Regions from separate parts of the Homo sapiens genome. Here region 2 is linked to region 1. The links come from fine-mapping of genetic effects on gene expression. A gene starts in region 1. The other region holds a variant in brackets. All regions are shown on one strand. Distances are from middle to middle.

What was found. PIP is the estimated chance that this variant, and not a neighbour inherited with it, causes the effect. A credible set is the group of variants that fine-mapping cannot tell apart.
Region 2: its variant is the best candidate, but not a certain one, in a credible set for the expression of LINC00402 in whole blood (INTERVAL, PIP 0.79).

The regions. Positions count from the first base shown.
Region 1 is chr13:74,230,242-74,233,171 of GRCh38, reverse strand. LINC00402 (long intergenic non-protein coding RNA 402) reads right to left here and starts at 1,728. Exons shown (of 2, transcript NR_144451.1): 1 at 1,420-1,728. It also overlaps a transcript of KLF12 not described here.
Region 2 is chr13:74,256,436-74,259,365 of GRCh38, reverse strand. LINC00402 (long intergenic non-protein coding RNA 402) reads right to left here. Exons shown (of 2, transcript NR_144451.1): 2 at 1-2,433. It also overlaps a transcript of KLF12 not described here. Among named protein-coding and RNA genes, the nearest start is that of LINC00402, 26 kb to the right of the region's middle. The variant T/C (reference allele first, on the strand shown) is at 1,537.

The DNA.
Region 1 (2,930 bases):
GTGGCTCACGCTTGTAATCCCAACACTTTGGGAGGCCAAGGTAGGCAGATCACAAGTTCAGGAGATCAAGACCATCCTGGCTAACATGGTGAAATCCTGTCTCTACAAAATACAAAAAATTAGCCAGGCATGGTGGAACGCGCCTGTAGTCCCAGCTACTCGGGAGGCTGAGGCAAGAGAATCACTTGAACCCAGGAGGCGGAGGTTGCAGTGAGCTGAGATCACGCCACTGCACTCCAGCCTGGGCGACAGAGCAAGACTCTGTCTCAGAAAATAATAATAATAATAAATAAATAAGATCAACAAAATTTGATAGGTATAAAGATCACTGTATACCTATCACTTTTTTGTTGTTGTCAACCTACATGGGATGGCCCAACACTTTTTTGTTGTTGTTGACCTACGTGGGACCACATAATTATCAAGATAGAAATAGAAAAGCTATTCAAAATGTACTTCAATGTCATATACAGTGTATATTTATCACTTTCTTAAAAGCTTGGGACAGTGTATAAAATTACTTTTGTTGATATAGTTTCAATTTTCAGAGTGTAAAAACTGTCAAACCTAGATAAGACACTCTACTTTGAATGTAAAGTAAATTTCTAAAAAGTACTTATCCTTTTTTAGGTTTAGATAATTATTTAGAGGTGTGAGAGCATGGAAAAAGATATGACAAGAACAAGACAGTTTCTTATAGTAATCTGGTTCAAGAAATAATACAAACATATATGAATGAATAAATTATCAAGGTCAAATTAATGTAGCAGAAACTGAGACTGCCAAATGGACATACAAGAGAGTCAGCCGCAAAGGATCATGAAAGTTTACATGACCACAGTTATCAATTTGGAAATAGAAAATCTATTTAAAATGTACTTAAATATCATATTAATCTTCTATACACTTCAGAGAGGTGGAGTTTCATTGTTGCTGTTGTTACTAGTGTTTTTGTTGAATAACCCATTCTTTAGGAAGCACATAATGAAATTAACTCTGACTCCCTCCTTCTTCCCACACTGTCCCACAACCTCTTCCTCTGCCAGCAAGACTTGGAAGGAAGATGATTGTTTACAAGGGAAGGTAGATTAGTTTATGTTACTCCCAGATCTTGTTACACCATGAAATCATATAGTAAACATAGCTTCTAGAATTTTAACTTCCATATGTTATATTATCAATTCAGACCCCCCAAAACTAAATTTCTTTGAATATCTAATTTTAATAGGTTAGATGCTCTCTGCCAATTTTTCTCCTTAATATACAAACCTAACATGATAATAAAAACCAATAACAAAATCAGAGGCTTCCTAGACAGTAGCCCATCTTCATTTCCAGGTTAAAGATTTTGGTTGAGACTATTTGCAAGCATATAATAATAATTCCTGTGCAAGAGAGTCTCTATTGAATGATACGTACTCTGAAGATGGTATGAAGGAAAGAGGCTCTTAGGAAGATCCAAGCTGGCTGCCAAGCTTCCATATCCACTTCAAGGTTTCCTGTAATATTAAATGCTTGGCCTTCACAGAAGATATTTCCAAAGACAACATATACATTATGTTGTATATGTTGGGATAGTCAGGGCTGGAGGCTCCCAAACTTGTATATGAAACATGACATAACAGAAAGAGCAGGCTATTTGGAGGGAGAAGGTTGGGTTCAAGCCCAAGCCCTCAATCTCATTGACACTGCAAACAGGGACATCACTTAACTTCTACGGGTCCAGTTCACAAGTCTGCCTTACCTCTCTAGATAATAGTTTTGTTTTATCAAATCAAATGATGTGAAAGTAAGAACAAAAGAAGACATTGGTAAGATATTCAAGAGGTTAAAAGAGGATGTGGTAAGTGATTACCATATTTCTCCCTCCTCTTTCTTCTCTTAGTTTTAACTGCTTAGCAAAATATTTACTGAGTGCCTGCTAAGTTTCAGCGATAAGCCCTGGAGATACAGAGGGAAAAAAAAAAATGACATGGTCCCTGACCTGAAGTAGCCAAGGAGTGACATTTACCTGACTTTACTTTTATAAGGATCACTGTGGTTACTACATTGAGCATACATGACAGGCAGATGACGATGCAAGCAGAGATACTTGGTTTATACACTACTGTATCATTTCAGGCAAAAAAAAAAAAAAGGTAGCAGCTTGTACAAGGGTGGTAGTAGCGAAAGTACTGAGGATTCAACTAAGATGAGGACCAATGACTAAGCTTTGGATTTAACACAGCAAAAAGATATTCAGTGTTCTTGAAGCACAGACAACGTTTAATGAAAACTAGGAGATCAACAGAGGGTTACTCATAACAGAATGAAAATTCCATGAGGCACATTGGAAAGAATTGGAAGGGAGGTCAACAGGAGATGGAAGCATAGGAGAGAAACAAGCACCAGGTTTAGAGAAGCTTGCTTCTGGGGCAATAGATAAACACTTGATAGTCGTGCATGCACAGAATTCTGTGCAGTTGGCCCAACAAGGGTGTGGTGCCTCGGGGTAGAATTCATCCCGAGTACGTGAGGAGACAATCCTCTGCCTCCATAGTTGCTCACTTTCATGCAAAACCAGCTGTTACCCATTTGGTTGGGGAACTGAGGTAAACATAGTGGAACTGAAGAGGATTGGAGTGGAGTAGCAGAGTCCTAGCCCTTGAATAGAATTTTTGCCAGGTAATTGATGAGAGTGTGGATGAGCACAATTATACCTATTATTTATTGGGTACATACTCTGTGTCTGCCATGCTTAATCTTCACCACAGAAAACTTAAAGATACGTGTATTAGTCCATTCTCACGCTGCTATAAAGAACTGCCCAAGACTGGGTAGTTTGTAAAGGAAAGAGGTTTAACTGACTCACAGTTCTGCAGGGCTGGGGAGGCCTCAGGAAACTTACAATCATGTCCTTCTTCACGTGGCAGCAGGAAGGAGAAGAATGA
Region 2 (2,930 bases), 26 kb before region 1:
AGGAAAGTCAGTAGAACCTTTACTATCTGAGAAACTATGGTCTAGAAAGTAAATACAAAATAAATGAGAATAAGAGGAATTCGAGGCTAGAAGGGGAATCCCTGGGATACTGTGAGTGTTATTGCCTGGATTAGGGTAATGCGGCAGATGCTTGGTGCCCTGCCCAAATCCCCTTGGCATCCCATTCCCATTTCCATACACACCACCTGCTACCTACCACAAGCATCTGTGACTCTCCATCCTCGGGCTTTCTCTGGCCACAGAAGCATGCCTGGTCTATCTGGGGCACAGGCCAGAAGTTTGGGGAGGTTAATGCCCTTAACCAGTGAAGCACGGAAATTAGCTGATCAGTACCCTAGTTCTCTTGCCCCAGCAGAGGGGGACAACTCTGGGGCATGTTCTACTCAGTCTTCCAGCGCTCTCTTTCAGGAGAGAGCACCGGGACCTTCTATTAGCTTTCTTCACTTCTCTGTATTACTTCTCTACTCTCTTAGCCTTTCTGAGATCAACTCCAAAAAAACTGCTTGCATCAAATCCTGGTCTCATAGTCTGCTTCTGGGGAAACTAAGTCTGAGCAGTGAGTTACTAAGAAAATTGAGGAAGAGTGGGGAGTCTTTGGAGATAGCGATAAAGAGATATTCCCTCGTTGAGTGTTTAACCTATGAATTAACTGCCCATCCCCATCATACACATCCAACTCCACGTTCCCCTGATAACAAAGATAACACTTCTTAGTTACATTCTGTTTATCCACTAAATGTACAATAATGGATCACACCAATACTGTCACTGAGAGAGATATGATCCCGCGTTTACAAAAATTTGCAAAAATATAATTTTTAGTGTTTTACATTATTGAGTCCTGGTTATTAATCTCTGCTTGTTTTGGTTACCACATCACAGTGAATGAGAACCCATAAAGTCAGGACATTTCAACATTAATAAAGACCTAAAACACACACAGGCAGAACACTCACTTTATAGGTATTGGAACTGAGACTTAGGGGAAAGAAATGACTTCAGCAAAGTCACACAGCTGGTGACAGGAGGCCTGGGAGTAAGATCTGGTTTCCCTTTCTCTCTGCCAAGTTCAACTTATACATAGCTGTCTTCCAGCAGGGCCAAATACCTTCAAAAATAATAGGAAACTTTGGTTTTACTACACACACACACACACACACACACACACACACACACACACACAAACACAGTAATAGACCAAGATGAACCACTTTGAAGGAAGTTGCCCTTAGTGTTAACAAAAGAGCAGATTTTAGACACAGAAATCACGATTCATAACATTCAAAAACTTGTCCTCCTGCCACGTTTTTTTTTCTGGATTGAAAGATAATAGAAGTTATGTATAGGAGAAGCAGTTCCCTACCCTCTGGTAATGAGAAGATATTTATCTAAGTGACCTTTGTTATTTAATACAGAGAAGACTTTTCAAGTAAGACAGGAAATAGCTGATATCTACTTATCAAAACACCACTCACCAGAATTTAGAAATGAAAATAAAAAAGGGAAAGATGAGTT[T/C]GAGCTGAAAACTTCTAGAAAAAAGCAACAAAGACAACCAATGTTGCCCCAGAGGTTGGCAAATGTTAACACAGTTGCGTTGTGGAAACTAATTTGGGTTCACAAAATCAGATGTGTAGAAAGTGCATCATTTTTATAATTATATAACTGAATTAATTTCCGTATCAAGCTCGCAGTCCCCCAGGTGACAAAACTTAATTTCCAACAAATCATGTCCTTGTGCCAAGGTTGCCTCTAAGTTTCTGGGAAACCTTGCAATGTGCTGGAGCATCCACGGGAGAGGGGGATGAACTTTGGATCTGGGTTTTCCATCCATACATGTTCCTGCTCCATCTGGCTCACACTGACCATCAAGCTCTTGCGGTCAGCTGAATTTCAGTGTCGTGTTTGTACCGTTTTCCTATGGCTGCATAGGAAAATGGTTTGCTTCTCCTCGTGCCATGCTGGAGAGTACAGGGACTCTCGGGAGTTAACTCAGTCCACTAGCCTGGACACCAATCATGACATTTCATCTGCTCCTGTGCCATGGAAAAATTCAGGGAACTTGCTGTTTTCCCAAGCCCTCCCCAGAAAGGCAGCACCAGTCTCTTCTATATCTCAGATTTTCAGCCGCTTCCAGGTCCTGGGACTCAGGCCATGGAGTACAGGCAGAGAGTTTCCAGGAACAGCCAATCTCTAATTCCCTCTCCTTCCCCAGCCCATGTACCTCCTCCAGCCTAGGCTCTATAACTAGGAAAACTGGCCCTGGCTCATTACAGATTCTTCCAAATCTTGCCTGTGTTTCGACCGCAACTTTTGACAATTCCATAAGGCAAAATGTTCACTCTGTTTTTTCTCTCTGTTTTGGATGCCTCATGGGTTAGCTGCTTAAGTAGATAAGATGTCACGGAATAACAACTGCAACAACAAAAAAAAGTAGAAGATTAATCAGCAATTAATATATGAAAATATGTCTTCAGGGACAGTGACACAAAATTTAATTATTATTCTACCATTTCATGTGTAATATAAGATCAAACAGTGATTAAAATCGGGACTAGTGAATGACAGTGAGTCTGCAAATAGTAGGCCGTTTCCAAAACAGCGTGGCAACAGATAGGAAAATCTTAGACACACACACACACACACACACACACACACAAGCTCTACTCAGAGTTTTCCACTAATAAAAGAAAAGCTTAATGCTGTATAAACTCACCCCCTCACTACCACCACCACCAATGTGTTGAAGTGCTAGCTTTACCCTACTGATTCGCTGGTGGGTTGAAGGGCTCATTATCCCACCCACTGTAACTTACCTATTGATGGAAGTGTCTCCTGTGGATCATTTCATTTTAATTGTTTTACTGTACCAGTCCCTAATACAGTCCCACCCAGATCCACAAGTTACTCAA